4 separate regions of the Homo sapiens genome follow, and regions 2, 3 and 4 are each reported to be linked to region 1. Evidence: microRNA targets listed by miRTarBase, many of them from high-throughput screens and not tested one by one. Region 1 holds a microRNA gene; each other region holds the end of a gene's coding sequence.
The links. Region 1 holds the annotated microRNA hsa-miR-10b-3p (ACAGAUUCGAUUCUAGGGGAAU, at 6,156-6,177, shown strand). A microRNA usually pairs through its seed, bases 2 to 8, with sites in the 3' UTR of a target mRNA and lowers its output. Matches are read on the target gene's strand: a 7mer-m8 pairs with bases 2 to 8, a 7mer-A1 pairs with bases 2 to 7 and ends in A, and an 8mer does both.

Region 1 (7,630 bases):
CCATGCTTCATCACCGTTTGTTCAAAGAATGTCTACCTAGCCCTAACTGGGTACCCATCACTGTTTCAAACACTATTTCTCCTCAGTCTTATCTTCTCGTTACCCCATTCTCATAAAAAGCTCATCACAATTGCCTGGAAACTAATATGTACTATGATTAATTTCTTTCTTTCTTGGTTTTTTTTTTTTTTTTTTTTTGAGACAGATCCTAGCTCTGTCGCCCAAGCTGGAGTGCAGTGGTGCGATCTCGGCTCACTGCAACATCTGCCTCCTGGGTTCAAGCGATTCTCCTGCCTCAGCCTCCTGAGTAGCTGGGATTACAGGCACCCGCCACCACACCCGGCTAATTTTTGTATTTTTAGTAGAGATGGGGTTTCACCATGTTGGTCAGGCTGGTCTCAAACTCCTGACCTTGTGATCTGCCTGTCTTGGCCTCCCAAAGTGCCGGGGTTACAGGAAAATAAAGAAAGCTCTTCTCAACCCCTCAAACTATTATTATTATTTTACAGCTGCTCATCTAGTGCTAACCAGAATCAGAAACATGTTTTGAAGAGTTTATCCATTTTTAAAAACAGATGCCATCAACCATAAAAGAAAAATATCTTCCTACATGGCTAATGAAACAAAAAAAGGAGAAATGGATGCCTTACAATCCAGGCTAATAGCCCCCTGCTTTCTAGCTAATGACAGTGAAATCAGGAAATGGGTTTGAAAATGCATGTAGAATGGGTGGAAATTGGGATGCAAAGAGATCTTTGTATGAAGGGATCTCTTTTATGGGCTTGATGGGTCTTTCTGATGGGAACAGTTGCAACTGAATTTGATTTAGAAATCATATGTGTGTGTGCTCTACAAATCTCCACAGAACATCCATTATTTTCATCAGAATAGTCAAAACCACACGTTTTTACACTGTTTGGTGGCAACTCTGGTGGGCTATTGAAGGGTGCTGGGGGGTCAATTCTCTTTTTATTTATGCTCCTTGGTGGGAGCTGAGGGCATCTTTCCCTCTCTCTTACCCCCACCCCAGCCTCCCCCAAGCAGAGAATGCCACATTTTCCTAGAGAGCAGCTTCAGGCCCAAGCTCTTTCCTTGGCTTTCTCAGCAGGACAGCGGCAGTGTACTACTCTCTCTTCCTCTCTTAGGCTCTCTCCCTGGTGGGGGCAGCAGTGTGGGTGTGGGGGTAGTGCTCCTAAAACTCCCACCCAGTTTTGAGCCCCCAAAGTTCCTGAGCCTTAATCACTGTGCTTGGAGACACCATGGGAGTGGGGACATCTGACTTCCTAGGCTTGGATTCCTTGAGAGTCTCATTTGCTTCCTCACACCCTGTCGCCTTCACACCAGGGCTGTTTTATTGTTTTATAACCTTCTTTGGAGCTTTAGTTGCCAAAGATTCTAATGAGGCTATTCTCCACTTTCTCACTTTACCAAACCCCAAGTCTTGCTGTGTTAAGCAGTTTGGTCACTTGCAAAGGCTTTCCTTTCAGATCTAAGCGAATTACAGAAACCTCTAGGCATGTGGCTACCTTCAACTTTGTCCAAGCCCATGCACAACAATATGGAGGGAGCCAAGTGTTAATTCCAACTGCTACTCCCACCCCCAAACCCACCCAGCCTCTCCCTAACCACCCTTTCTCCATTGAAACTTGAAAAAAATCTCAAATAACTTCCAACTTCTGTCATAAGCAAATAAGAAGTGGCTTTTGACCTTCCTCTTTATCACATCTAGAGCTAGAAAATTATTGAAATAAAGGGGTTGATGGTACTCACAGTGAATGCCGCCAAAGAATCATAAGACATGCCCACCAACTAGCCTTTTCCAAATAGCACTATCTCCCAACTTAAACAGCTTCTCCGAAAAGATGCTATTTGAAAAGCCTGGGGTATTGATATGAATATGACCTCCCTTGCATCCTGGATATTTGGAACTATTTAAATCTGAGGTAACCGTTGCAGCGAACCTTTATTTAGTGAATAAAAGTTTAAAGCCAAAGGTTATTTATGGTTCTGCAGAGATGGGACCTGAGTGGCTATTTACGAGCACGTGATTCCAATAAACTTTGTTTTATGGCTTGAGAGTTGACAAGCCAAAATATAATTCCCACCATAAATTAGGTTAAGAGCATACAAGTGCAGATGCTGGGTTCCTGGAGCAGCAATAGGAACGTGAGAGGCTCCAGCCAGCTCCAGGCTAAGAAGGAGACGGTTCTACTCCCAGCTCCCCTGCCCACTAGGAAAGAAAAACAGTAAGTCACTTATTACTTTTTCCACAACAACTTCAGAGGTGGGAGATTTCTCTGTTCCTGACTTTTCTGCCTAGGATGGGGATAAGTCTCATCGAAGTTAATTCTAATTTTAGCCTAAACCTAAATTAACAAATAGAATGAGCATCTCGATCTCCCATGCCCTCCCTTCCTGATAGGGACAGTTAGGAATTGAGGGCTCTCACCTCACAAGAGGGACTTACTGCCCCTCTCCTCCCCCTTAAGAGCATCTCCTTCAGAAGTGGAATAAAACAGTGGTATTCTGGGTGGGGAAAGAAAGAGAGGATGAGGGTGAAGCTGCTTTGTCCCTGAGATTTCTGATACTGCTTTCCTATAATAATATCAGGAAAGACTGAAAACTTAAAACTGGACACCAGCCTCTGGGAGGACCACTGCTTAGTAAGATTGTCTTCTGGGCTCTCCAGCAGCAATCCTGAAAAATTGATGTCATACCCATAGAGCTGGATAACAATCTAAAGCATTGCCATTCACCTTTAAACCCATTGATTTTCCTCCTCCTTGGTTATCATTTGGGTCCTCATTTCCCCCTGGAAATTGCTCTTTGTTTTGAATTGGAGTAGAAGTGGCAAGTCCCAGCCATGCCTGATTCTTCTTTGAAGAGGAGAAGACAGGTTTTGGGGGCACTGGTTGGGGCTGAGGAATTTGAAACCAAGCTGAAGCTGGAAAGGGAGGCTGAATTGCTCCCAGGGTGGGAGAGATAGGAAGCAGGGGTGAGGGGCAGATGGAGCGGCTACCCCCTCCCCAGTGGACCTGCACCCACCCGGCCCGATTGCGCAGAAGGAAACACACAAAGGCCCATTTTCTCCTCGCTTCTCGTTTTCCCACTGGGAAAACCCTGTTACAGGCGACCTGACTCGGGCCCAGTAACTAGTGAGGTTTTGCCCAAGGGTGCGTGGAGTGGGGGAGGCGATGGAGATCGAAATCTGTCATAATCCGTGGCTCTGCTCTTGAGGGACTGCGGTCTCCGGCTCTGCGGAGAACTTTGCGCAGTTCCCGGGGGCGGGCACCTGAAGCAGGGAGGTCTGGGTATTGGTGGGGTATCTGGGCCTTGTCATTTTTCTGTGTGTTATATGTGTCTGCTTTATTATCCTGTGGAATTTAAGTGATCCCCGTTTTCATTGCAACAGGTTCAGGACCATGAGAGAGCGCCGCTGTAAGTACCTTCCCGCTTCTTCCGAATCGCGAAGAGACGGTACTGATCGCGGGGAAGTGGTGGGCTAAGGGGCCAAGCCAGCGGAGTGGGCGGATAGAAGAAAGGCCCTGCCTCCCCCACCCCACCCCCACCCTCCACCCCCGGCCTCGCTCTGCGAGGTTAGCCCGCTTCGGGAGGTGGAGGCGCTAAATCGAGGTCCCGGAAAGCTTTTCTGGGGCCTGGTTCACAGACACCTGCCTGAGAGAACGGTCCGCGGGGTCTCGCCCTTGTCTCCTTGGGCCTCCCTAGACCTTCGCGGCCCTTCCCTGCTCTGCACAGGTGCAGCTCCGCCAAGGCGCTCACTTCTGTTAAGAGCTTGCTAATTAGCAGCCTGTCTTATTAGCGGCTTCAAACCAACGCAGTAAACACCAAGGCAATGCGGTCCCCTCCGCAGCCCAACCCTTCTTAACCTGGTCTAGCCTGGCCAACCTTCTGTTTTTAAAAAAATTCACTGAAAACAAAAACTCAATCCTCTGTGGCCGTGGGTGTGTTGAGTTGCCCGCTTCTGAGCTTTATGTGGACATTCCTTCCCCGCCCCTCCCCCGATCTGTTTGCAGCGGTGTGGGCCCTGGGCTTGGGACACTGGCTGAGCGAGGAGGGATACGGACCTTCTTTTCACCTCTGCTTCTCTGTAACTGCAGTTGGAGAATTTCCGCCCCAGAGGCGCTGGTGCTGCAAGGAGGCATAGGAGGGTGGAGTGGGGTGGATGCGGTGGGGTGGGGCCAGAGACTCGTGGGATCCTTGGCTTGGATGTTTGGATCTTTCTGAGTTGCCTGTGCCGCGAAAGACAGGTACATTTCTGATTAGGCCTGTGAAGCCTCCTGGAGGACCATCTCATTAAGACGATGGTATTGGAGGGAGAGTCACAGAAAGAACTGTGGCCCCTCCCTCACTGCAAAACGGAAGTGATTTTATTTTAATGGGAGTTGGAATATGTGAGGGCTGCAGGAACCAGTCTCCCTCCTTCTTGGTTGGAAAAGCTGGGGCTGGCCTCAGAGACAGGTTTTTTGGCCCCGCTGGGCTGGGCAGTCTAGTCGACCCTTTGTAGACTGTGCACACCCCTAGAAGAGCAACTACCCCTATACACCAGGCTGGCTCAAGTGAAAGGGGCTCTGGGCTCCAGTCTGGAAAATCTGGTGTCCTGGGGACCTCTGGTCTTGCTTCTCTCCTCCCCTGCACTGGCTCTGGGTGCTTATCTCTGCAGAAGCTTCTCGCTAGCAAACCCACATTCAGCGCCCTGTAGCTGAACACAGCACAAAAAGCCCTAGAGATCAAAAGCATTAGTATGGGCAGTTGAGCGGGAGGTGAATATTTAACGCTTTTGTTCATCAATAACTCGTTGGCTTTGACCTGTCTGAACAAGTCGAGCAATAAGGTGAAATGCAGGTCACAGCGTCTAACAAATATGAAAATGTGTATATTCACCCCGGTCTCCAGCCGGCTCAGCAGGCTCCCCCAATTTGTCTGGATAGAGCCTAGGCCCAGTGTCCCAGGAAGGTGGATACTTGGGAGTCTTTGGCATTCAGGGAAATTGGGGGGACTCTCCTGGGATAAACAGATTCTGCAGCCTCATAGCCCTTGTTAGAACTGGCGCCCCCAAAATCCCTACGAAACAGGTAAAGTGGTGGAAGCAAAGGATGGGGGGATGAGCAAAGTGCCAGGCTTGGAGGGGGAGTATCCCTGCCCCACCCCACCAGGCCCAGGCCCAGGCTTGAAACTAAATTTTGAATTATGTGGGAGGTAGGAAGGGCAATCAAGACAGTTAAAAAAAAATCTAACACCTTCAGCCTACAGTTAGGCACCCAAAAGCCCCACTCGAGCCAGGGCATCCCTGTGCCCCTGAAATCCATCGAGGCTCTGAGTGAGTCTGCGCTCTCCATGCCCTGAACTGAGGGACAAGCACTGCACAGTGCCGAGGCGCTGGGGCGGGTGAAATTTGTGAACTTTTGTACTCTTGTGTGCTGCTGTCGGCAAAGCAAAAATAATGAAAGTTTGTGATATGTTTGTAAATGATTTCGAATGACCCCTCGCCCTGCCCTTCACCATTAGCGCGCCGGCCTCAGCCCAAGGCGGCTCGGTGCCTGTGAGCAGCGCCTGCCTCGGGGTCTGCAGCAGCAGCGGAACGGAGAGGCCAGCCCGGATCAGGGCCCATGAAGGTAAATGCGCGACTTCTTGGAGAAGTAGCTTTGGCAGACAACCTGGCTTGGTCGGGCAGTAGGAAAAGGAGTAGACACAGGATATTCCCCTCTCGCTTCTTTTTCTTCTGCCGCTGAGGGCATTTGTTCCTTTCTGGAAAATACCACTTGGTAAGGAGGAGGGTTATTTGGATCCTGGTGGGGGAGGGTGGTTAATAAAGCCGCCATCCTTGGGATGGATTATTTTTCTTTCTTTCTTTCTTTTTTTCTTTCTTAAGAAGAATATTCTGGTTGTTCGCCTGCTTGGTAACCCTGACCCTGGCAGAAGAATGAGGGAACTCATTGCTTCAAATTGTCGCCAAGCCCATTAGGCTACCTGAACTGTCTCAGAAAGTGCGGGTGGCTGCGTCGAACGGTGGTGGCTCAGAGGAAGAGATTGGGGCCGGCAGCGACCTAGGTACCTCACTCTGGGTGGGACCCAGAGGTTGTAACGTTGTCTATATATACCCTGTAGAACCGAATTTGTGTGGTATCCGTATAGTCACAGATTCGATTCTAGGGGAATATATGGTCGATGCAAAAACTTCACGTTTCTTCGGAATAGCCAGAGACCAAAGTGCGACATGGAGACTAGAAGCAGCCGGCGCTGGTCAGCCGCCTCGTTCTGTTTTATTACCTTGGACTCCAGGAGGATCAGCTGCGCCTGGTGACATAGAGCAGCTTTTCCTCTCCAGAAGCTCCTCACCTTTAAACAGAGTATCCTCTGGGTGCTGAAAAGAAAGAAAGACAGAAAGAGAGAAAGAGAGAGAGAGAGAGAAAGAGAGAATGCAAGCCTAATTGGTTGCATGGATGCAGGGCCAAAGGGCTAGGTTTTGGGGTACTAGGGAGTGAGGTACAAGGCCAGCTTGCCCAGTCCCAGCTCTGCCCTCCAGGAACATGAGGTGCAAAGGTACCCAAATGGGGGCTTGCTTGTATTTGGGGCCTGTGGGAAGAAAGCAAGCTTCAAAGAAGCCCAGTGGGGAGCTCTAGGGTGCATTTTGACAAGGTGGAGGTGCCCTTGCCACCATCCCAGCCCACCCCCAGCTACATGGGCAAGGGCAGCGAGGGCCCCCTGCTATTTTGGCAGGGCCCAGCTTTGGCTGGGAACCCCCGGGCCTGGGCACTGGTAGAAAGCATGGCGGTTACTCATTGCCTAATTTGATTCAAGCTGGCCAGATTCTGGTAACTTTTGGGTGACCCTGATGAAGACAAAGCCAGGACGGCGGCCTTTGTATGGCAGAATCCCTGCTCCCGCCGGCTGCAGGCAGGGCGGGCAGGCAGGAACCCTCCTCGCCTGGGGCACTCTGCCCAACTCAGAGGCGAGTTCACCCACCCACCTTTCATTGCTCTGTACCCCAATAGGAGGATTCATTCTCCCTTGAGCTGTGCCTACTTGGTGTCGGGGGGCGGGGGTTGCATTCAGCTGGGGGTGAGTGGAAGGGCCACGGAAGGTTGGCAAAATCAGTGGCAGACAAAAGCTGGGATTACCTGAGGGGAATGGGGTGCTGGGGACTGGAACTACATTAATATCTGGCAGGGGCTCTCAAATGTGCCATAGCAAGCTACTTGATTACACGTATGTTATTTAGTTAAATTTGTGAAAATTATGAGATGCTCACCAACCCGGTGATAAACTTGCTCCCTCGCCATTGGCTGGCCTGGTCACATGGCTGCCCAACTTTATTCAGTTGACAGCAAGTAGGAGGGCCCTATGGAAGGAGAAAAAAAGACAACACGAGAAAAATTAGTATTTTCTACCTTCTGAAATTAATGGTCATGAGTTCGTATATGGTGAACTCCAAGTATGTGGACCCCAAGTTCCCTCCGTGCGAGGAGTATTTGCAGGGCGGCTACCTAGGCGAGCAGGGCGCCGACTACTACGGCGGCGGCGCGCAGGGCGCAGACTTCCAGCCCCCGGGGCTCTACCCACGGCCCGACTTCGGTGAGCAGCCTTTCGGAGGCAGCGGCCCCGGGCCTGG
Region 2 (7,990 bases), not on the chromosome of region 1:
CTGGAAACCCAGCCGTCTCCACCTCTGCTGCCGCCACCCCGGCAAGGCTGCCGCACCTCTCGCCTGGATTTTTGCAATCTCCTGCTCCCTCGGCCACCTGCTTCCGTCCTCCTCCCATAGCCCATTCTCCTGGAGATCCTGTCAGCTCACATCCATCCTCGGCTCCTGCCTCCTTTGGGCAAAAGCCGAAGTACTGGCTCCTTGCTGGCCCGGGAACATGCCTCCTCAGGGTCTCTGCTCAAACGCTGCCTTAATGAGGCCCAGCCTGACAACCCGATTTAAATCTGCAAACCCTGACATCCCCCATCTCCTGTCCCTGCTTTATTTTTACCTAGTGTGGTTGTTACCGAGTGGCATACTTTTCGAGGCAAGGTCTTGCTCTGTCACCCAGGCTGGAGTGCAGCGGCACAATTATAAGTCACTGCAGCCTCGAACTCTGGGGCTCAAGGGATCCTCCTTCTTCAGCCTCCCATGTGGCTGGGACCACAGGCGTGCATCACTATGCTGGGCTAATTTTTTATTTTATCTTTTGTAGATACAGGGCATAACTATGCTGCCCAGGCTGGTCTGGAACTCCTGGCCTCAAGCGATCCTCCTGCCTCAGCCTTCCAAACTACTGGGATTACAGGCATGAGCCAGTGCGCCCAGACATACTTTTTTTTTTTTTTTTTTTTTTTGAGACAGAGTCTTGCTCTGTCACCCAGGCTGGAGTGCAGTGGTGTCATCTCGGCTCATTGCAACCTCTACCTCCCGGTTTCAAGTGATTCTCGTGCCTCAGCCTCCTGAGTAACTGGGATTACACGCGCCAGCCACCACACCTGGCTAATGTTTGTACTTTTAGTAGAGATAGGGTTGTACCATGTTGGCCAGGCTGGTCTCAAACCCCTGACCTCAGGTGATCCACCAGCTTCAGCCTCCCAAAGTGCTGGGATTACAGGCATGAGCCACTGCACCTGGCCTCCCAGCCACTTTTAAATTTCCATGTTTCCTGTACCTGCCCCCGGCTGCAATGCAATGTGAGCCCCATGAAGACAAGAGATGTCTGTTGATCCCACTCCCCACTGTGCCCCTAGAACAGGGTCTGGCACGCTCAGGGTGCTGGATACCTAGTCATGGAGTGAATGAGGGAGGGAGAGAGCAAGCAAGTGGGTCTTCCCATTGCTGACCTTTGCTCTCCGTTCCCCAGGCTACTCCCTAGCTCTGTCTTCCCCAACGCCAGAGCCAGCCAACAACCCAGGGCTCACCATCCCTGCCCCATGTACCCTGTACCCTGCTGAGCCAGAGGAGGGAGCTGAGAAGAGACCAGAGCAGAGCCAGGGTGTCGGCAGAGGGAAAGGGGGAAGGAGAGGGAGGCCTTCACTGCCTGGCGCAGGATGGAGGCACGGGGCAGGCCTGGCCTGGAAGCCTTGGACCCCAACAGGCAAAGCTGAGGCAGCCAGCCTGAGCCCCATGGCCAGGGACGCACCCCTCCTAGATAGGGAACAGGGTGTGGATGAAGAGGGCAGGTGCAAGATGCTAGGCAGGGAGCAAGGAGAGCAGGTGGGAAGTGAGGCGGCAGGAGTGGGGACAGGGCCCCCAAGAAGGCCAGGGTGAGCACCGGAGCTGTAGGCAGTGAAGGAGCCACAGGCCGCTGGGGCGGGCAGGGGCCGGGCATCAGTGGGCTCGCTGGGCTTCAGGAGGACGCCAGCCGCGGAGGGTAGAGCTGGGCCACTCCTGGCCATGGCTGGTGCCGTGGTGGGTAAGGTGGGCGCCTGAGGGGCGCTGGCAGGTTCCTTGGGGACAGTGGAGGTTGCAGGCAGCCCCTTCTGGGCTTCGTGAATGGGGCAGAGCCGCTGCCGCAGGGGGCTGGGAGGTGAGGGCTGGGACTGGGGCTGCCGCTGCTGCTGCAGGACGGAGGGCAGGAGGCCCCGGCGCCAGCCACTGCCACCCACTTGGTGGCTGTGGTAGGCCAGCTGCCAGTGTGATTGGGGGGAAGGCCGACAGGGCCCATGGGCTCGGAGGGCCGCTGAGTCCTGGCGCCACTGATGACAGCATCCTGGAAGGAAGGAAGTGGGGGTGACTGGGCCTGTGTCCCCGACCCCCGGGGGCACCGGCACAAGCCAGACCAAGTCTTCAGGTAGAACCTGGGGGCCAGAGTATTCTTGGGAGCCCCAGAAACCCCTCAAAAAGTAAGATTATGTGCGGGGGAGGTATGGGCAGGGGAGGGACCCAGGGTCTGTGCTGTCCCATGGCGGGGGAGCAGGGAAGGTGCAGGCTTGGACTTCAGCTGGGGGCAGAGAGAGGACGCCTGAGGTTGGGGCTTCAATGGAGGCTGGTGCCTGCCACAGCAGATTCCTGGATCCCTGGGGGGTGCCGCCAGTGCAGGGGTCAGGGAAACTGAGAAGATCCATTGGGAGCTGGCCCTGGCTGGCCCAGGGAGGCCGGAGTGATGGGTGGTGGCGTGGAGAGGGGTAGGCCAGGGATTTGGGTGGGGGGTGGACCTTGTCCCCAGCTCGGGCCAGGGTGGCAGGAAGGGTGGTGACCTGGGAAGCTCCAGCCCTCGCCCTAGCCCTGAGGAGGCTGAATCAGCCCCAGTGGGAGGGCACTGCCCCCTCCCCACCCTGAACAAGATCACCTGTGGTCACCACCAGAAACTGGGCCCAGCCTCATCCAGACATGTTCAGTGGGGGGGCTCCCTCTCCTACCCCTCACTCCCAGCACACTGCTCCCCTCCAGGCTGGAGGCCATCCACACAGGCCTCAGGGTTTGGAAACGGGGCAGGGCAGGCCAGGCGGCCCCTGCTTCCAACTCCAGCCCAGGCTCCTATCTTTGGGCCCGCAGGCCCTGTGGTCCGGGTCCTGGGTCCCAGGCCCTGCTGCTACACAGATGCCTCTGGGTGGAGTGCAAGTGGCTTTTCTCTCCTGGGGATGACAGCTCCCCTTCTGTTCCTCCATTCACTCTGGCTTCCTCACAGGCCTCTGTCGGCCATCACCCGCCCCCAAACTGAACCCGTACCTTTTCGGTGCCCCAACTCTGGGTCCCAGAAGTAGTGCCCGTTGGGGCTCTGGGCATCCTTGGCGAAGTGGACTTTGTAATGTTTGTGCATGGCAGCCGGGCAGCTGGGTGCTGGGGGCCTGCTCCTGAGGCAGGAGGGAGCACACAGGCTTGGCGTAGCCTCTGGGGCACGAACAGCAGAGAGCTGAGGTCAGGGTCCCTGCCCTGCCCGACAGCTTGGACAGGGGAAAGGCCAAGTCCCAGATGCTGGGTTCCTAGGTCACTTGGGAGAAGGGGGTAGAGGTGGCCTTCAGGGTACAGTGAGGGGCAGGATAAGGAGGGATGGCCAGAGGAGGGAACGGAGAACCGCTGGGGTTGGCTAGGGGTTAATTTGAGGCTGGGTGTTGGGAAGCTCCTGGGAGTTTCCAAGAGGCTAGGACACTGGGGAGTGCTGAGCAGACATGGGCTGGGGAAATAGGGGGTCCGGTGTGGTGGCTGAGTGACCAAGGGGTCATTAAGGTGTGGGCGCTGTGGGAGGCTGGCACGCTTTGGAAGGACATGGAGCTAGTGAGGTGAGCTGGAGAGCAGATGAGAAGCAGGGTGAGTGAAAATCAGAGCTGGGTACCTGTGGGCATTGAATGATACGGTGGAGGGGGAATTGTGAGGGAGCAATGAAATCGCGGTGGTCCAATTTGGGGAGAGGCTCAGCAAACTCGGGCAAGATGGGTGTACCGCGTTTCCAATGTGAAGAGCCGAAAGCAGGACAGGGAAGGATGCTGTGTGGGGGACAGGGATAGGGAAAGGCTGAGGGGCAGAGGAAACTGGGGTGCTGAGAGTTGGTAGCCTGCCCACCACTCCCCACCCCCAGTCCCAGTCCCACTCGTACCTGACGGTGGCCTCACGGCCCCAGCTGCCTGCCCCACGAGCAGCTGCCACACCAGCCCGGACTGTCAGCGCAGGCCCATCCAGATGGAGGCCTCAGCCCAGTGCCCGCCTGACCGGTTTGCCTGCCTGTCCCCGCCCCTTCCCCAGCGCCTGCCTGTCCCAGTGCTCTCTGCTCTCGAGGACTGGGACTCCGACTGGACTCAGTCTTGTGTCCCCATCCCTGGTAAGGAACGGAGATGCATCCCGCAGCACTGCCTCAATCTCCTTAAGGCAGCCACAGGCCCAGGCACTTCTGCTGGTGTGGGGGGGACAGGGAGCTGGGATGCCAGCTCCTCCGTGGCCCAGGTATGTGACCTTGGGCAGGTGACTTCACTCTCCGAGCCATGGCTTCCTCATTGCTGAGTGGGCACCTGCCTCTCGTGGCTGTCGCGAGGGAGGCACTGGGTGGGAGTCCCCTCAGCTCAGGGCCTGGCGCACCTGACCCGGGGCTGTGCTGACCCATTTACCTGGCGCTGTTCTAAATGGATGTCCATAGGACAAGGGCAACAGCACACACATCAAGGCTTGCTACACCATAGCCCCGTCTTCCTCTCCACCACCCAGGGGGCCAGGTGTGATGCCCGCTTCACAGATGAGGACACTGAGGCCCAGAGAAGTGAAGTCCTCGGCCCCAGGGCACACAGAGGCAGGGCGGGGATTTGGAAGCAGTCAGTGGTTGCTACTCCCAGGCTCGCCAAGGCTCTGTCTCCTGCCCTCGGGGCCAGCACTCAGTGACTGCCTCCCCACAGATGCCCTCTGAGGGGTGAGGGCCGGGGTAAGGCTGGGCAGGAGATGCCCTGAAGGCCCCTCGGCTCTCTGGGGCCCCGGCTCCCTGTGGCTGCTGGCGTAACGGGGTCAACAGTTGCTTCCCTGACAGACGGGGTGCTCCGATGGGGATGGGGGAGGCAGCCCCAGAACAGTGCCCAGGACAAGATAAAGGGAACCCACCCAGCCCTGAGTTCTGCCCAGGTGACCAAACACTGCTCCCTACGGCCAGAGCCAGGGCCCTTCCTGCGACCTGGGACCCCGTCTCCTCCCCCACCCTTCAAGCCGGTTGCTCTGGGAAGGTTCCTCCCTGGCCCACCAGGGAGGCGGGGCTGGCATCTGAGCGTGGGCATCTGCAGTGGGCCTCCGTGCCAACCCCCCACACCCCCGGCCCGATCATGAAGCGTGGCCCAATGTAAATGAGCCGTCTCCGCAGGACGAGATTGCCCCGGGCTGGGAGCACAGTGGCCAGGAGGCTGCTGGACACTAGGGGGAGCAGGCGTTTGGGGAGTGGGCCAGGCGGGCAGCACTGCAGAGGCAGACACAGGACACAGCTACACTCAGCCAGGTGGAATAGGAAGGGGTGACCCAGGCAGGGCCTGACGGGGTGACTGGACCCCACTCTACAGGGGAGGTTCTTTAGCAAGGGGCCCCTTTCTCATCCCATTTGGGGTTCACCCCCAGCCTTGGTGGGCAGCTCTGAGCCTGGGGCACTTACCCATGTCAGGCAGCGGGCGGCGAAGCCCAGGAGTCCCCAGATGCTACAGATGCGAGCGGGGTGGGAGGGGGCAGCATAAGGGCCACTCTGCCCAGGGACGGGCAGCAGGAGTGCGTAGGGGCCGCGTGTGTCCATGGGGGTGTCTGGCCTCCCCCTACCCCATGCATCCCCAGCCCTGGCAGCCCCAGCCCGACCTGGCCTACACTCCGGGCACTCCCAGCCCTGCTCCCCAGGAAGACGCTCCGTTCTGTGCACATCGCCGGGCAGAGGGCAGCCCCAGACTTGTTGACTTGGCAGAGGTGCCAGTAAGGCCGCCCATGCCGGAGGCCAGCATCCCTCTGCCAGGAGCACGGGGAGGGAGGGAGTGGAGGGGGACGTGGCAGGGGAGGGAAGGTCTGAGGGGCATGGGAGCCAGAGAGGGTACCCACTCCCCTGCAGGACCTGTGACAGTCGGTCCACAGATCCTCCCCCACTGCTCTGAGTCAGATTCCACACACACAGCCTTTATTGAGCAGCTACTGGGCAGTGACGCTGCCGAGGCGGGAATCCCACCACAGTCCTGACCGCAGCTGGGACCCCTTTGCCTCCTCTGACACCCCCACCTCAATTTGATACCCACTTCCTGAGCAAATGTGACCCCTAGGGCCTGGGATTCCCAAGACCACCCCGAAATGCAGCGGCCCCACCGTCTCCTGAGGCCGGTGAGGCCAGGGGCAGCAGTGCGGCTCAGCAGGTGCGAGGCAGGCTTAGGATTTCGGAATCACCACCTGGAACTTACCTGGAAGAGAAGGCCTGGCTTAGGCTTGAGGATGGGATGGGGGAGGCAGAGGGCACCTGGACGGCTCTTAGGCGCTCACCCCCGTCCTGCACTGACACCCCAGTGGCTAGGTTGGGCTGTTTCCTCCCGCCCACGGGGCCGCATCCCTGAGCTGTGTGAGTAACCAGGAGCATGAGGGCCACGGATGTGGCCCCAGGGAAGCGCCCGGCACGGGCTTCTGTGGTATGCATTGCTCGGTCCTACCCCACGGGGGCCCCGGGGGCCCCCATGAGTGGGCCTGGGGAACCGGCAGAGGCAAAATAACTGAAGGTGGGGGAGGTGGTGGGGCAGGCTGTCCCCAGGCAGGAATGGGGCTCCAGCTTGTCTGACAGAGGACACCCAGTCAGGCAGGCTGCAAGTTCCCTGGAGCCTGCCGTCGCCCCCATCGAAGGATCAGTGAGGATAACTTCTATTGCGTCCACCTCGGCTCCCATGCTGGGAAACGATGTTCAAAACCGCCAGACAGTTCTCTCTGCAGGGCTGGCGACGTCACGGAGCCAGGGGCACAGATGGGCCTGCACCAGCCGTGTGGCTGAGCAGGTGACTTAAAACTGGGCCTGCCTCCCAGGCACACACACAGGAGTGGGGCTGGAACTCTGAAGCCCCCAGCAACTCAAGGGATGAGAAGAATCCCCCCACCCCCCATGACTCACAGACGGGCAGGGCTGCCACGGAGGCGGTGACCACGCTCTCAATGCCCAGGGTATAGAGGGCGCCGCGCAGGAGGCCGCAGGTGAAGGCCAGGAACTGAGGAGGGAACACAGACCAGCATGGGAAGAGAGGGGAGGCCAGCACCCGAGGTCTGGGGCACCCCTTAGGCCTGGGGAAAGGCCTGATGTGGGATGGGGCTGGGTAAACAGGAGGAAGGGAGGTGTGGACAAGGCCCCAGCTCCCCCCATACCTTGGGTGCTTCCTCCAGATACTGCAGGCCAGAGGCCATCGGGAGGAGGAGGGGGAAGCTGTTGTCTTGCAGGACGTAGGTCCCCTGGGGGAGAGGAGAGGCTGGTGGGTGGGGTCGGGGCCTGTACATTTGAAGCGCAGGGAGGGTAAGCAGGAACCCAGGTCTTAGATTGGGCTGAGGTTGGGAAGGCCCCCTTCCTGAGAACCACTGGAGTCACAGCCTTGGCCTCCAGTGCTCTGGTAGGGCCCAGGGCTTCCAAACTTGGAGTGGGTGCCTGTGCCCTGGGGAGTGTGGGTCCTGCCCTCGCCTCCCAGGGTTGTGCAGAAAAGCTGGGGACCCGGCCCAGGAAGATGCAGAAGGGCAGGTACAGCCTGGGTGTCACTGGGGGACTAGACCAGCTTGGGACAAGCAGCATCACACTGGGGGTAGGGCAGGCAGCCACCAGGGGCTTTCTGCCCATGCATGGCTCACTCCTGGTAGGCTGGAGAAGTTCCGGAAACACCCCCTATGCCCCAGCGCAGCCTCCTGGCTTCCCTTAGAGGATCAGACAGAGCAAGAGCTGCGGCCGCCTGTGGGAAAGCTCTGGGCGGGTCCCGGCAGCCGCTGCTCTGGCGCCGGGGGATTCCCCTCCCACTCTCTTGGTCTTGCCCTCAGGAGGAAGCTGGACGGGCAGGCCGGGGTGCTCCCACCTGGTGATTGGTGCGCAGGCTGTCCATCTGCTTCTGGAACACCGCCACCCACAGGTCTTTGCACAAGAACTTGAGGACATCCAGCTCCTCCCTGAAGGCCAGCGTCTCCCGGGGCAGCCTGGTGGGGCAGTACCAAGCTGAGGCCGTGGGGCCAGGCCAGGAAGAGGGAGGAAGACAGGCCCGACTCCTGCATGGAGCAATGC
Region 3 (7,990 bases), not on the chromosome of region 1:
GTACGGTATAAGCTACTTTGAAAAGCGTTCGCAGGGAGAGGTGGCTCACGCCTGTAATCCCAGCACTTTGGAGGCCGAGGCGGGCGGATCACGAGGTCAGGAGATCGAGACCATCCTGGCTAACACTGTGAAACCCCGTCTCTACTAAAAATACAGAAAAAAAAAAAAAGAAAAAAGAAAAGAAAAATAGCCAGGCGTGGTGGCGGGCGCCTGTAGTCCTAGCTACTCGGGAGGCTGAGGCAGGAGAATGGCGTGAACCTGGGAGGCAGAGCTTGCAGTGAGCCGAGATAGCGCCACTGCCCTCCAGCCTGGGGGACTGAGTGAGACTCTGTCAAAAAAATAAAATAAAATAAAATAAAAACCTTCAAGAGTCTATATTTCTTTTTGTCTGATTGCAGAGGGAAATGTCTGATAGGAAATAAACTGAGATGTGAACAGTGTGCCGCCGTATCGGATTGTCAAGGGACTTCACGAGAGAACGCATGCGATGCATGAAGGCCTTTTTTCCTTTTTACTTCTTTGTATTTTCTGATATATTTTCCTGTTGTCCATGTATTATTACTTGAGTAATTTAAGAAAAAAGAAGTGGCTGGGCACTGTGGCTCACGCCTGTAATCCCAGCACTTTGGGAGGCCGAGGTGTGAGAATTTCTCGAGTTGAGGTGTTTGAGATCAGCCTGGGCAACATAGTGAGACCCCGTCTCTACAAAAAAAAATTTAAAAATTAGCCGGCCATGGTGGTGCATGCCTGTGGTCCCAGATACTCGGGAAATTGAGGTGGGAGGATCACTTGAGGCCAGGAGTTCCAGACCAGCCTGGGCAACATAGTGAGACTCCATCTCTACAAAAAGTAAAAAAAAAAATTTAGTCAGGCATGGTGGTACTTCCCTGTGGTCCCAGACTATTTGGGAGGCTGAGGTGGGAAGATCACATGAGCATGGGAGGTTGAGGTTGCCATGAGCCGTGATCACCACTGCACTCCAGCCTGGGCAACAAAGTGAGACCCTGTCTCAAAAAGTAGTTAAAATAATAGGGAAGAATGCAAGATGCTCCTGGAGCAGGATGGGTGATGAGTATCATGAATACAATAGCAGTAGGTGTCTCTCCAGATCCATCACAACCCGGCAGGTGAACCCTGCGCTCCATTCCAGGCTGCATCTGATCCTGGCTTGGGGCTTGCCACCAGGTCATCCTGGAACTTTGGGACCCAACTCTCCTGGCTAGGTGGTATTGGGCAAGTTCCTTGACCTCTCAGGGAGTCACTTTCCCCAACTGTCCGTGGGGTAATTATGAGATACACCTTACAGGGCTCTTATGAAGCTTGAGTTGACTTGCAGAGCGTTTACCATTGTGCTGGCACATGATAGACACAATATGTCCTAGCTACTGTTATTATCCAGCAAGTCACTTCACATTTCAGGGTGTCTGTACAATGCGGGATTCACACTAGATCAGCATGCCTTCAAGTACTGTCCTTGCACTCCCTGCCTCAGAATCATCTAGAAAACCAGTTAACTGCAGATTCCTAGGCCTTGCCCCAACCTATAGAATCATTTCCAAACATCTGCATTGTCAACAAGTCTTCCAGCTGAGTCACAAAAGGTTGAAGCCCATGGAATAGGGTACAGTTGCTAAGGTCCCTTTCCACTCAGACATTTTGAGATGCTGGGGGTTTTCTGATGATCTGCCCAGCCTCTTGGCCTCTGCTTCCAACTTGGTAATGGAAGCCAGGTCTTGACGCTGGAAGGTTCTACAGAAACCTAGCCATGGGCCATTCTTAGAAAATCATAGAGCTCTAAAATGGAAATTCTGTAGCCATTGCATGTCAGGACACTGAAGACCAGTGAGAAGAGGGCATTTGTCGCACAGTCAGCTAGCGATGGAGCCAAGAACACAGTCCTGGTGTCCTGACTGGGATAAAAGGTGTGTGCACACATGCGGGAACACACACGCACACACACACTGTTATTCTTGCTGTGGATGGCCCATGCTGTGTCTACAGCACAAGGTCAAGGTCTGGTCCGCTGTCAGATAATTTGCTGTCCAAGTTTGCACTCATGCATATGCAAGCCTTTTCACCTCTTCTGAGATTTTCTTTCTTTAGGATAAGGCTTTGGGGCCAGGGTAACAAGAACAGAAAAGGAAGAGACAGGAAATGTGAATGAAAAGGGCTTTGGGGTTTTGGTTTGTTTGTTTTTGGAGACAGAGCCTCATTCTGTTGCCCAGGCTGGGGCGCAGTGGCACTATCTCAGCTCACTGCAACCTCCGCCTCCTGGTTCAAGCGATTCTCCTGTCTCAGCCTCCTGAGTAGCTGGGATCACAGGCACCTGCCACCACACCCAGCTGATTTTTGTATTTTTAGTAGAGATGGGGTTTCACCATGTTGGCCAGGCTGGTCTTGAACTCTTGACATCTACCCACCTCAGCCTCCCAAAGTGCTGGAATTACAGGCATGAGCCATTGAGCCCAGCTGAGAGCTTTGGTTTTAATGCTATTCCCTAAAGTTTTATTCTACAAGAGCAAATTATTGTCCTCATCAAGCAGATTTATTCAAAAATGTGACTTGGCCTAGGGGTCTTGTTTTCTGAGCCTTTGGCAAATCCAGCACCTGGCATACAGGAGGCACCTCCATACTTATACTGATGAAGTAAGATAACTCTTAAGGTTTTTAGTCTGAGTAAAATCCTGGAGGAACAGGATTGCCATTTAATAAGGTGGCCATGAATTGAGAAGACAAGGAGCTTGGTCTTGAAAGCTCTTAGTCTGGGGTGTCTGTGAAGACGCTGGTAGGCAGCTCAGGACAGGAATCCAGAGTTTTGGGAGGAGTCATGGGCAGACAGTATTTAAGGTCATGAGATGTGAGTGTAAGAGTTAAATAAAGAGGAAAGAAACATGAAAAGCCACTCAACAGTCAAAGATAGGTTATTTTGGAAAATAAACCTGAGAGGGGCTTCTGGCCGACTTAGGTCAGAGGCCCTCTCTCTTACAAAATAAGAGTATTTAAGGGTTCAGGGTGGGAGAGCTTATCACAGGCTCGGAATGTTTCTGTGTCTCTTTGTCTTGCTTATCTGGGAGGGAGAGTTTTTGCATCTGTTCCCACACATCTTCCTGCAGCTGCAGGCATACCACCCGAGTTTGCTTTTAGCTTCCCTATCTCAGCATGCCTAAAGGGAAAGAAATGTGCTTATTAGGGCCCACTGTTTTACTGGGGCCCATTGTATGAGGGTGAAGTTTGGTGGTTACGAAGAGACTTTCCCTCCTCCCTCTGTGCTCAAGCTGTCTTATCTGTGTTTCATTGTCTGCTCTTCCTGGCTGCATTTCCTTGAAACGCATGAGGTTAGAAAGGGAGCTGGAACTTTTGGAGTTGTTTGTCCAAGATGACAGTGCTCCTGCTCTGTCATTGAGGAGATGGCCTAGGGACAGAGCCAAGGCCGGAGAGGAGGTCCAGGGCCTGTGTTCTTAAAGTTGGGGCACCCCAACTTTAAGATGTGTGTTGGGGTAGGGGAAGGAGTCCAAGACAGAGCCACCCGTGCATGAAGGGGAATCCTAGCAGGAGTGGTCCTCTTGGTTGTTGTTTCAAGGAGAAAAAAGGAATGCACTTGCTGCCGACGTGTCATATCCTGCCTCAGAGTCATTAGGAAGGGGACTGAGAATTCTCACTCGGTTTAGCAATGGGGAGGTCGTGGGCCACCTGGGCAAAAAGTATTTCAGTGGAGTCTGATGAACAAGGTTCAGGAGAAAAAAATCAATCAATCTAGGAGGTCCAGTATTTTGACTAAAAAGTATTCCAAAGACATTCATTTGACTATTTGTTACTGAGCATTTAGGGTCAGGCACTGTTCTGGGCACTGAGGATAAAGCAGTGAACAAAAGAGACACAAAGAGTTTATATCCTGGCCAGGCTCGGTGGCTCATGCCCGTAATCCTAGCACTTTGGGAGGCCTAAGCGGGAGGATTACTTGAGCTCAGGAGTTTGAGACCAGCCTGGGCAACATAGTGAGACTCTGTATCTATTTAAAAAAAAAAAAAGAAGAGGTTACATCGTAATAGGGGAAGATTATATAGTAGGTCAGATGGTGATAATAAGACTTAGTGAGAAAAAGCAGAGGTGGGAAATCAAGGGGTTGGGGGCAGGTTGGTTTTAGATGGGAAAGTGCAGAGTCCACGGGCACAGATGTGGGGAGGTAGGGAGGTGTTATGGGAGCTTGAGGAATGTTCTTTCCTATTTGTTTCTTTTTTCTTTTCCTTTTTTTTTTTTTTTTTTTTTGAGACAGCCTTGCTCGGTTGCCCAGGCTGGAGTGCAGAGGTGCGATCTCACTGCAACCTCCGCTTCCCAGGTTCAAGCGATTCTCGTGCCTCAGCCTCCTGAGTAGCTGGGACTACAGGCATGTGGCAGTATACCTAATTTTTGTATTTTTAGTAGAGATGAGGTTTCACCATGTTGGCCAGGCTGGTCTCGAACTCCTGACCTCAAGTGACCCACCTGCCTCAGCCTCCCAACGTGTTGAGATTACAGGTGTGAGCCACCACGCCTGGCCCCTATTTGCTTCTAGGTTCTGAGAGAAATAGGAAGCAAGGCCATAAGGAGGAGGACAGGCGAGCTGCAGAGGTCTGAGAAGATGTGACACAAGTGCCTAGGGCAGCACGTCGCCTGGATCAAGGAGAGGGGATTGTAGGATACGGCGGGGGCTCAGGAGAGCTGTAGAAACTAGAGAATGGCTGTTTCTCACCAGCCTGGCTGGGCTCCCTGTGTGTAGTGCTGGAGGTTCACCAGGTGGAATGGATAAAGGGGTTGGTGGGTGAACCATGGCCAAGGAGGGTCCACAGGGACAGCTAAGGGGATGGATGCACTGTAGGTGCTGGGAGGCTGAAGAGCTACACGAGTTGGGATGAGGGAGGAGCCAGAGGAGGCCATGAGAGGAGAGGACATGGGGAGGAAGGAGGAAGATCTGCACTCACGTGCGGCCATTGTGTTCCAAGTTCACTCCATGTGTGCAATGGGGACAACAGATGCTCGCTGAGCCAGCCTGGCAGAAGCGTAGTGCAGCTGATGGATGGGAAAACACGAAATGCACCTGTAATGGACTTCAGAGCTGATGCCCTACTCTGCAACTGTGCTGTTTTTCTATGAAAATCCTCTCCTCCTCACTGGTCTCTCGTTGAGTATCTTGTACTTCTGAGTTAGAGCTGCTCACGAGTATTCGAGGGTGCTCTCCACACAGTCCTCCGTGTAGGGTGCTCTCCAGTCTTCCGTGCAGGCAGTGCTATAAGCAGATCACCTGTGACGTGCCACATCCCCAGTCTCACCTTGATATTCCAGCGACAGAGCCACGGGCACATCTCCTTCCTGCAGAGGCTGTCAAGCCCGCTGGGAAGGGGAAGTAAATATTTAGAACGCCCTGTCAAGGGCCAGGCGCCGGGCAGGTATTTTCAAGTGAGTGCTCAGATCAGACAAGCCTTGTGAAAATACTGGAAGATGTTCCTCTCATACTGCAAAAAAGAAACTCCAGAGAAGATCCTGAGAGGGTGAACAGCTCACCCATGACCTTGCCAGTAAGTGGCAGCCAGGAGTCAGGCAGTTCTGACCACTGAGAAACCCGCTGTACCAGGAGGGAGACTGACCAATGAGGTTCTTATCCTTGCAGAGTGAGTCCTCGCTGCTATTTATTTTTATACCCCTATAGTCTTTAGATTAATAAAAATGCTAGAGGAAACATATAATATATAGAAAAGTTTCATTTATTCGAATTAAATTATGGTATGAGTTTCATATACAAATAAATTCTGTGTAAATAATACAAAATGCTACAAATTTCAATCTTGTAAAAATGCAAAAATACTTGTAATACTATACATATATAATTCCTTTCACATGACCAACATGTACAGTAGTTGACACGATGCACACGCGCTTCCCCCCCACAGCTGAGGCTGCTGAGACAGCATCAAGCCTTCGCTTCTGTGACGTCAGCGCTCCCTCCCGCGGCTGCCTCACGGTGAGCCAGCAGGCCCTCCCCCTCACACCCCCAGCTCAAGATGCTTCAGATTATGAGCCATCATCAGGAGGGAAGCTACCTATTCTCTGGCTAGTTAGAAGGCACTGTCATGGGGAAACTGGGTCCTCCTACAGCCTTAACACCAGCCTGCTAAACTGAGAACACGCCTCTACCGTGGAGAAGCGCGGTACATCACTGGTCTAACTCGTTTTCATTCTGCAGCGTCTTCATCGCTAGCCCCCAGAGAGTCATGCTGGAGAAAAACTGACCCTCTGAGTTCCTATAAGTGGTGGAAGATGCTCGACTGCCCAGGGGGTCACCGCCGTGGTTGTCCAAAGCAGCCAGAGAGGAACGGATCATGGCCATGCCATCGGCCTGCAGTGGTTCGCCACCGGCTGGGGTGTCCACATCCGAGTAAGCATAGGCCTGAGGCTGTGTCTGCTGCATCTGGGGCTTGGCAAGTTTACCAGGATCCAAACTCAGCTTCTCCTGGTCACTAACTCCATGAGGTTGGATCATGGACCGTAACTTACAATAGGAGCCGCCAGAGTGGCTATCAAATTCTGCCACAGAATTTTCCACTGGGTGGACAGGGAGTTTAACCGACACTGGCATCAGCGTCACAGACGTGTCTTGGGAGAAAGAGTCTGAGCTCTGAGATTTCTCGAGGTCGGAGGTCTCGATGGCTTGGCTGAGCTCCTCCAGCACATCTGGGCTCTCGTCACCAGCTTTGCAGTGCATCTTCTTGTGCCGCCGGAGCACCGCAGAGCGGGTAAAGCACTTGTTACAGATCTCACATGTGTACGGCTTCTCCCCAGTGTGAGTGCGGACATGCCTGCGGAGGTCACCTGATCCCCCAAAACATTTCCCTGGAAAAAGAAAAACAGTTATTTATTTACTTAAACAGGGTCTCACTATGTGGCCCAGGCTGGTCGTGAACTCCTAGCCTCAAACAATCCTTCTTCCTCAGCCTCTCAAGTAGCTGGGACGACAGGCGCATGACACCACGCCTGGCTAATATACATATACATTTTGTAGAGACAGGGTCTTGCTATGATGCCCAGGCTGGAAAAAGATGCTTTTACAGTGGCCATTCTGGAAGGATTCTCCCCTCCCCTCCCAAGACACTGAACAACCCTGATCTGAGGAGAGGGGGTCACCTCACAGCTTCTGCTCACTCTGGAAGGCTTTCCATTCCTGTGGGAGGTGCTTCTCCAGCTGCGGACCCCTCCAGCAGACAGCCTTTGGGTTTTGAGTATCTCAGTGTCAGTCCTTCGATTCTCACTGAGTCTCCCTGCACATGGGTGCCGTAGGCACCTGCCAAGCCCATGCTGAGAAACCACAGCTCTCCTCATCAGTTTCACTACATGTTCATAAATCTAACACAGCCAATCTATAATTTAGAAACATCTTTTCTAAAGGTGTTTGTGTATTCGGGTGTTTGTCTCGAAAAAAAGAAAAAAATCGCCCAGGCTGGAGTGAAGTGGCATTGTCTCGGCTCAGTGCAACCTCTGCCTCCGAGGTTCAGGTGGTTCTCCTGCCTCAGCCTCCTGAGTGGCTGGGATTACAGATGCCTGACACCACGCCAGGCTAATTTTTGTATTAATATTTTTAGTAGAAATGGCATTTCACCATGTTGGCCAGGCTGGTCTTGAACTCCTGACCTCAAGTGATCTGCCCACCTCAGCCTCCCAAAGTGCTGGGAGTGAGGCGCCCAGGCTGGAGTGAGGTGCAATCTCGGATCACAGCAACCTCCACCTCCTGGGTTCAAGCGATTCTCATGTCACAGCCTCCCGAGTAGCTGGGATTTACAAGGTGTGCCAACACACCAGGCTAATTTTTATATTTTTTGTAGAGATGGGGTTTTGCCATGTTGGCCTAGCTAGTCTTGAACTCCTGGCCTTAAGTGATCAGCTCATCTCAGCCTCCCAAAGTGCTGGGGTTACAGGCATGAGCCATGGCGCCTGGCCCTGTATTCAGCTTTTAACAAAATGT
Region 4 (7,990 bases), not on the chromosome of region 1:
TGCTGCACCCATCAACCCATCATCTACATTAGATATTTCTCCTAATGCTATCCCTCCCCTTGCCCCCTACTCCCTGACAGGCCCATTGTGTGATGTTCCCCTCCCTGTGCCCATATGTTCCCACTGTTCAACTCCCACTTATGAGTGAGAACATTCAGTGTTTGGTTTTCTGTTCCTGTGTTGGTTTGCTGAGAATGATGGTTTCCAGCTTTATCCATGTCCCTGCAGAGGACATGAACTCACTCTTTTTTATGGCTGCATAGTATTCCACAGTGCATATGTGCCACACAATTTTTAAGGGCTTATTAATGCTAGAGGTTGTTTATAATACTCCATAGAGGCTGACTTTTTTCCCAGTGGAATGTTTCTATAAGTTGATAATTGGGAAATATATTTATAGAAGGTACAGTCAGCTTTCCAAGAACACATCCAATATGGAAAAGAAGACTTACATAGAGATTTCTGATTTTTAAATTAAATGTTTGATTATGAAGCAATCAGTTTCTAAACTGTTGAACCTACAAATTGTCAATTTTTATAGCAAGAGTGGATCCAATGGTTTCTTTCACATGAAATGCACAGAATCTTAAAATGAGATTTTAACAATGAAATCCTTTTTAGCTATTTTGAATGAGTTTGTTTTATATTATCTAAAACACATACTAAATGTAGGTATGCTTATTTGTTAGTCTGGAAGAATTCAAAATGAAGGAAGAATTGTGAACTGGAAGCTGATTTTGCACGGGACCTCTTCTCAGCCAGAGCATATGAAGCAGCCTCGTGTGTACACGTCCTACAACACTGTTCAGAATGACAGAAGAGGGGTGGAGAAGATGGTGGATCCAGGGGAGGTCTGTGTGGCTCTGTTCTTGGCATGCTCTCTTTTGAACTGGGGTAGACAATGTAGTCAGTGAAGCTGTACCCAACTTCCAAGCAGGAAATAAGTCAAACATGGATGGGGAGGATAAGAAGTGATAGTGGTAAACTATTCTTTTCCATAGGATAAAACTGTATTTTTTTCATTCAATATTTTATCCAGAACTTAGAAATCACAATTAATGAATTCAAAAGTATTAAATTTCCTAACATGAATTTTCTCCACTTATGACAGATAACAAATGGAAAAAAAAGTTATCTTTATGCCCAATCACATATATCTAACATTTGTACTGTACTTTGTTTTTAAGCATTTTCCACATTGTCTCATTAACCTATAATCCCTATAACCTAGGAAGGATAGACATTCGTGTATCCATTTTGCAGAAAGAAAAACAAGGCTCAAATGGCCAAATCATGTAGGCTTCTTTTTATTAATTCATTAACTGACACTTCTTGGCAACACCAAGGGGAGCGATAGATCACACTTTTTCTCAAAAAATTTCAGAGGATAGCTAAAATAAGTCGTTCACATTCCTGGGTTTCAGCCTGCTATGGCTCCTGGCTTCCTTCTATCAGATGGTGAGAAAAGCCCACATTTTCTTTATCTCTGTATCCCAGCATCTAGCACAGTGCCTCAGGTGTAATAGGTAGGTTTTCAGAATTTTCAGAACGCCCTGCTCTGAATAGGTCCAGCTCTGAGCTGGGTGTTTTGGAAGATACAGAGGCAAAGTACATATTCAAGAAACTTACACATGAACTGTGAAGGCCTCAGCTTGAATTCTAGTTCCATTTATATTCTTCAAAGCAGCTTCCCTCCAGGACCTGAGTCCTGAGTACTTTTCTTCACAGTCTGGGAAGCAGGTTAACCTTGTCAGTGTTGGAATATTGAAACACTTCCACAGCAGTTGGCCAAGGTTGGCTTCTCTGAGCTCTCCAGCTCCCTCCTCCCCAGCCTAGCACCTCAGTCTCTCCCCTGACCACTTCTTACAGCTCAGTGGCTAAAAGGGTAGTTCTGAAAGCCAGTGCCTCCAGGAAGGCACACCCATGCTACCGCAACCAGTGGGTGCCTTCTATATGACTTGTTAGATATTTTGATATCCTCTGCTTCCCAAAATGGATTCCATGACAGCAGGCTGACAAGTAAAGAAAACCACCATGTACTGAGTACTTACCTATACAGTCTCATCTAGTCTTCAAAACCACCACAAATGGAGGTACTCTTATTCCACCTGACAGGTGAAGTTGAGGGAGATTAAAAAGGTTGTTAAAGGTACCCCAGAGGGTAGGCAAATGAGGGTTGAAGCCCAAGTCCATGTGGCTCCCAGTCTTGAACTCTCTCCCCTCCCCTCATTGCCTCTCAAGCGGCAGGCAGCGTTCCTGTGGTAGGGTTGCAACTAGCTTGCCTGGCCATAAATAATGAACCTTCTTCCCTTTGTGGATGGCATTCTATGTTTTAGGAGCAGCCCACACAAGAGAACCCTAAGGAGAACACCCTGGTGTCCAAAAGCCCCAGCAGCAGCAGCGTAGGGGGCCGGAGGGATGAGTTGGAGGAGGGAGCCCCTTCCCAGGCCATGCTGCGACTCCTGCAAAGTGCTTTCAGTAAAAACTCACCGCCAAAGCAATCACCAAAGAAGTCCCCAAGTGCAAAGCTCAACATCCCTTATGAAAACTTCTACGAAGCCCTGGAAAAGCTGAACAAACCTTCCCAGCTTAAAGACTCTGAAGACAGTCTGTATAATGACTATGTTGATGTTTTTTATAACACTAAACCTTACAAGCACAGAGACGACCGGCTGCTTCAAGCTCTGGTGGACATTCTGAATGAGGAAAATTAAAATAAGTGTGTGGTCCCAAGTTGGAAATATTCATGCTTCTTCCTTACCCTGCGATTTTGCCTGTGTCTGAAGTGGTTGTTTTGTCATGAATTCTTATGCTTATAATATCCTTTGTGGCACCTTTTCTTTTTCTCCCTAAACTGTACATGTGAAGGGGATGAGCTCAAGCAGGAAGTTCAACTTCCAGAATTGATCATAGGTATTTCAAAACACATCTTTCCTGTCTGCACAAGTGAAGTGTTTTGTTCTTTCTGGAGTCACAGTTGACAAAAAGCTCTTACACTACATTAGAACACTGCATTAGAGCCCATTTCAATTCTCAAAAGAAAAGGCAAAACCTGGGATATCAATTAATTTGAAAACATAATCTGCAAAGAATGAGAAGGAGTCAGAAACTGTTTCTGTAGCTTGTTCCCTGTCTTGTCCATGTGGTTCTTCAAATTTTGATGCCAAGAAAGTATTTGGTAGGCCTAATGAAGGAGTTCACTGTAAGACTCATTCCCTAGATCTTTCTATTCCAAAGTGCCACTCATTCCTGTAGTCAAAATCTGGTCATGTTGGTCAAAAGCTGGATTATTTAGATCTAGAAACAGATCTTGAAATCTGAATGCTCTGGTTTGAGCAATTTTCGAACATTCTTTGCCTGGTGCACTGTGTCTGTGGTGCCAGAGGCGTCCGTGGATCCAGAGGTGGTTATGACTCGTGCTGCATGCCTGGTCTTTCCTCTGTTTCTCCTTCTGAAAGTTTTCTATACCTGTCTCCTTTCTCAGCCACAAAATAAATGTTGGGAGAAATGATATATACCACTTTCCCAGAAAAAAAAAAACTTACACTTGGGACTTGGCAAATTCCTAGTCACAATTTTTTTCAGCAGTAACAGGAAACCACTTATCACATGGAGACCTAATGTAATAATAGAAAAATACTCATAATAGGGAGAAACCAAGAGAAGTTTTGTTTTTGTTTTTTTCCAACTGTGTTCATTAGAACAGCGTGTTCTAAGTATTTGAAACTGAATGTTTATTCCTTGATACTAAAAGTTCTTCTCCAATCCTATCACTGATAGTGTCCAAATTCTCACCAAATTGCTCCTAAGCTTCAAATCAGAAGCAGAAACTGGCAGGCCATGGACCTTAATTGTCCCTCAGGTAGATTTTGTTTGGTATGCAGAATGTTTTTAAAATATGAGTGGTTATTGAAAATATGATGTTTCACATAAAACCTCATTCTCGGACCCATCTTTGCTCATGGCAACAGTTAGCTGGAGCTGAGTAGCAGCTGCCTGATTAGATGACTCTCAGTCCCCATGGCACCCTGCTCCATGTTACCTAGAGCAGGCACTTGATTCCTTGCTGGGCAGTATCCAATAGGCATTTGATTTTGCCCACTCCTACACTAAGCGAATGTGTACAAAGTGTAAATGCATTAGGAAAAACAAACTACCCGCATCTTCTGTTAGGCAGGATCTGTACAATAATAATTATGAGTTTGCTTATGTAATCTCACCTCACCTGGATGATCACTAATACTAATTCATTTATTACTAACCTTCTGGCTTCCTTCTCTCAATATGCTTACAAAGTCTCCAGTCACCTACAATGCTGGCTTTCTCCCACTGAGTTTGCTGTTTGCAATTTTTCCATGAAGTTTGAACTTCATAAGGTAATTCATGGCATTGAACTGGTTCATGAAAAGAACACTAGAGTCTGTCATTTGCTTTGGCTTGAAGTATGGTTGGTAACACAAATTTTCACCTGCTCTTCTACCATTTGAATTTGTGTAGAGGGTGTTTGCAGAGCAATGCCCGTAATGCTTAGAGAATGTTCTCCTAAAAGACTTGCGGAATCACTCTGTCCTTGGAAGTTTCATATATTGTTTGATATGAAGTGTTAGATAGAATTTCCAATATTGGAGCATATCAAAAAGTATTAAAACTAAAAAGGACCAGAGAATTCTTAGATTGGCCCGGAAAGGCCAATAAAGAGTTAGAATGAAAACTCATTACTTTTCCATTCCCAATCTAGTGCTAGATGTATAAATCTTTCTTTTGATTCTTCCTAACAAAATATTTTCTGGGTTAAAACCCCAGCCAACTCATTGGGTTGTAGCCAAAGGTTCACTCTCAAGAAGCTTTAATATTTAAATAAAATCATATTGAATGTTTCCAACCTGGAGTATAATATTCAGATATAAAACAGTTTTGTCAGTCTTTCTTAGTGCCTGTGTGGATTTTTGTGAAAATGTCAAAGAGAAAACTTATATACTATTTCCCTTGAAATTTTAAACTATATTTTCTTTACAGGTATTTATAATATACCAATGCTTTTATCAAACAGAATTTTAAAGAGCATAATAAATTATATTAAAGAACCAAAAGTTTTCCTGAGAATAAGAAAGTTTCACCCAATAAAATATTTTTGAAAGGCATGTTCCTCTGTCAATGAAAAAAAGTACATGTATGTGTTGTGATATTAAAAGTGACATTTGTCTAATAGCCTAATACAACATGTAGCTGAGTTTAACATGTGTGGTCTTGGTATTCTTAAGGGAACTTCCACATTATACATTTGATGTATTGACCAGAATATGTAAAATATGCTTATAAATCAGAAAAATAAATTGTTTCTCACTAAGTCAAAAGAAAAAAAGCTCATGTTTCCACCACAAACAAGATCTCCCTCTTTTATTGTGTTTCCCAAATGGACTATACAAAAGAAAAGCTGACAGTTTACATTAAGGAGTTAATTCCTTTTTAGGAAATTGGGCTTTCTTGGAGTCAATTTAAGAATCTACCTGAACAAGGTATGTTTTATTTTCCTCTCTAGCCCATCCTTCACTTTCTTGACAACATGCAAAGCTGTATGACTGAGCCTTAACTGAAATGTTGAGAAATGAACAAACTATCTAAACTAAACTAAACAGACTTACTACATGTAAGAGAAATGATTCCCAACATTTCACCAAATAGGACTTAGTTTACAGGCTAGAGTAAAGCAGCTAAGTGTGAAATCCTTCCCAGAGGTTCTCTCATTAGAACCCTCAAAGTTCCAACTTTTTTTTTTTCTTTTGCTAGAGTCTCACTCTTTTGCCCGGACTACAGTGCAATGGCATGATCATGGCTCACTGCAGCCTCCACATCCCAGGCTCAAACGATCTTCCCACCTCAGCCTCCCTTGTAGCTGGGACTACAGGTGTGCACCGCCACACCCAGCTAATTTTTGTGTTTTTTGTAGGGACAGGTTTCGTCATGTTGCCCAGGCTGGTCTCAAACTTTTGGGCTCAGGTGATCCACCTGCCCCAGCCTCCCAAAGTGCTGGGATTACAGGCATCAGCTACTGTGCCAGGCCCCAATTCCCAACTTTGATTTCTGAACTTCAGGCCCACTTCTCTCTCTTGCTTCAAACTTCCATTCCTGGAATTTCGACCCACCATCTCAGAATCTGACCTTTCTCCCCTTGGGAACTGGTTTTTCCCCAGAATCCATTCATTTCTCCTAAGTCATAATCATTCAGTAAAACTAGAATGATCTTTCAGAAATTCCAGAAGGACTTCTTTCCATCAGGATTAGTTGAAGATATATCTCTATTTTCATTTCATTGATTAATCGATTAATTGATTGATTGTACATATTTAAGGTGTACAATGTGATATTGTGATATATAAATACATAGTGAAAAGATGATTACAGTCAAGCAAATTAACATATCCATTCTCTCAGTTACCTTTTTTCTTTTGTGGTAAAAGCACCTAAATGCTAAGAAAACTCTTTAAGCAAATTTCCAGTATGTAATACATTTTTATTAACTATAGTCCTCATGCTGTACATCACATCTCTAGACTTTTATCCTACATAACTACAACATTATACTATTTGACCTATATCTCCCCATTTCCCCCCACCTCTCCCACCCCACTGCAAAAACCATTCTACTCTACATTTCCATCTATTTGACTTTTTAAAAATTCCACATATAAGTGACATTATGCAGCATTTTTCTTTCTGTGTCTGGCTTATTTCTCTTAGCATAATATACTCTAGGTTCATTCATTTATTGCAAGTGGCAAGAGCTCCTTTTAAAGGCTGAATTTCATATGTGTGTGTGTATATATATGTATATATATATACAGAAATAGTTTGTGTGTGTTTGTGTTGTACATAAAACAATTTCCATAGATGGTCTCTACTTTCTTTTGAATGTCCATCTGGTAACTATTGGATTAACCATGTACATGCTGTGAGTACAAACACAAATACATGCACGTGTACAAAGGATACAGATTAATTCTTAAATACAAGTTTAAACTCATGAGGAGGAAGAGAAATGCCTTCCAACTGCCTTGTAATTTGCAAAGCTATAACATTCATATAAATGATTGTTTGAATTATCCACTCTGTTCCCTCTGCCCCTGTGGACAGAGTATACTTTCTTGGACCACTGATGTTGACCATGCAATCTACTTTGGCCAATGGAATATTAATGAATGTGATGCAAGCAGAGGCCTCAAATGTGCTTGCACAGTTTGGCTTGGCCCTTGCTTTTCAGTGACCCAGCGCTGTGAGGAGAGTGTGCCCCAGGAGCTACTGCCCCTTAAGCCTGGTTTCCAGAACAGATGTATATGAACCAGATGTAAATCAAAACCACATTCTGGAACCAAGCCCAGCCAACTCATAGCACGAAGCAGAGCCATCCTGAGAGAGAACAGTCTAACTAAGCCTGTATGTTGTTGCTATATGTACATATTTTATAAGCATTACTCTATCATTAATGTACCAGTAAAAGGAGGTGACTGAAGTCATTATGCGCCCATCATTCTCATGGCATGTGCCAGGGAGGCAGAGACCACTTTCCTGGTTTCTATACCGGTTCTCTCTACCATGTGTGCCACTTTCAGTCAATTTGGCTGGAATGCCATAAAGCACTTTCTCTCTCCTCCACATCCATATGCACCCCATCTCTATACACCCCCATATTGAGAGTATCTTCATTAAATATGTATCTGAACAGGGACCCCCAATCTTGAAAGGAATTCTTGTTCTTAGAAGAGGATAGAGGAAAACATCCTCGAATTTCTTCCTGCAGGGTTGTCATGATTGATCCCTTCATTTCCTGTATCCCTGTCCCTAGTGGCCCCAGTGACAGGTGATTTATAAACCTCGATGATGTCTCAGTGAGAGGAGAGTACCCTTTGGCCTTAGTTCTGTCTTACATATTTTACAACACTTCTTGCATCATCACTTCTCCTATTCCAGGCACCACCAGGGCTCAGCTCAAAAC

Region 2: the mRNA of TRAPPC6A is a reported target of hsa-miR-10b-3p. The part of its 3' UTR that is shown has no 7-base or 8-base seed match.
Region 3: miRTarBase lists ZBTB49 as a target of hsa-miR-10b-3p. Seed matches in the 3' UTR shown: 7mer-A1 at 6,041-6,047.
Region 4: the mRNA of PCSK1 is a reported target of hsa-miR-10b-3p. Seed matches in the 3' UTR shown: 7mer-A1 at 3,315-3,321.

What each region holds. Positions count from the first base shown.
Region 1 is chr2:176,144,213-176,151,842 of GRCh38, forward strand. MIR10B (microRNA 10b) reads left to right here and starts at 6,091; the gene lies at 6,091-6,200. HOXD4 (homeobox D4) reads left to right here and starts at 7,338. Exons shown (of 2, transcript NM_014621.3): 1 at 7,338-7,630. The coding sequence starts at 7,422. RefSeq lists enhancers at 3,985-4,528, 7,057-7,630.
Region 2 is chr19:45,157,066-45,165,055 of GRCh38, forward strand. It overlaps TRAPPC6A (trafficking protein particle complex subunit 6A), which reads right to left. Exons shown (of 6, transcript NM_001270891.2): 3 at 7,788-7,905; 4 at 7,099-7,182; 5 at 6,851-6,944; 6 at 5,868-6,158. The coding sequence ends at 6,127. NKPD1 (NTPase KAP family P-loop domain containing 1) reads right to left here and starts at 3,917. Exons shown (of 5, transcript NM_198478.4): 1 at 3,860-3,917; 2 at 2,995-3,156; 3 at 1,598-2,035. The coding sequence starts at 3,085. LOC105372420 (a long non-coding RNA gene) reads left to right here. Exons shown (of 2, transcript XR_935986.2): 2 at 1-299. RefSeq lists enhancers at 3,567-4,199, 6,855-7,034.
Region 3 is chr4:4,319,514-4,327,503 of GRCh38, reverse strand. ZBTB49 (zinc finger and BTB domain containing 49) reads right to left here. Exons shown (of 8, transcript NM_145291.4): 8 at 5,721-6,864. The coding sequence ends at 6,188. Among named protein-coding and RNA genes, the nearest start is that of ZBTB49, 33 kb to the right of the region's middle.
Region 4 is chr5:96,387,725-96,395,714 of GRCh38, reverse strand. PCSK1 (proprotein convertase subtilisin/kexin type 1) reads left to right here. Exons shown (of 14, transcript NM_000439.5): 13 at 690-851; 14 at 2,337-5,382. The coding sequence ends at 2,714. The region is part of intron 4 of LOC101929710 (a long non-coding RNA gene); the gene reads right to left. It also overlaps a transcript of CAST not described here. Among named protein-coding and RNA genes, the nearest start is that of PCSK1, 42 kb to the left of the region's middle.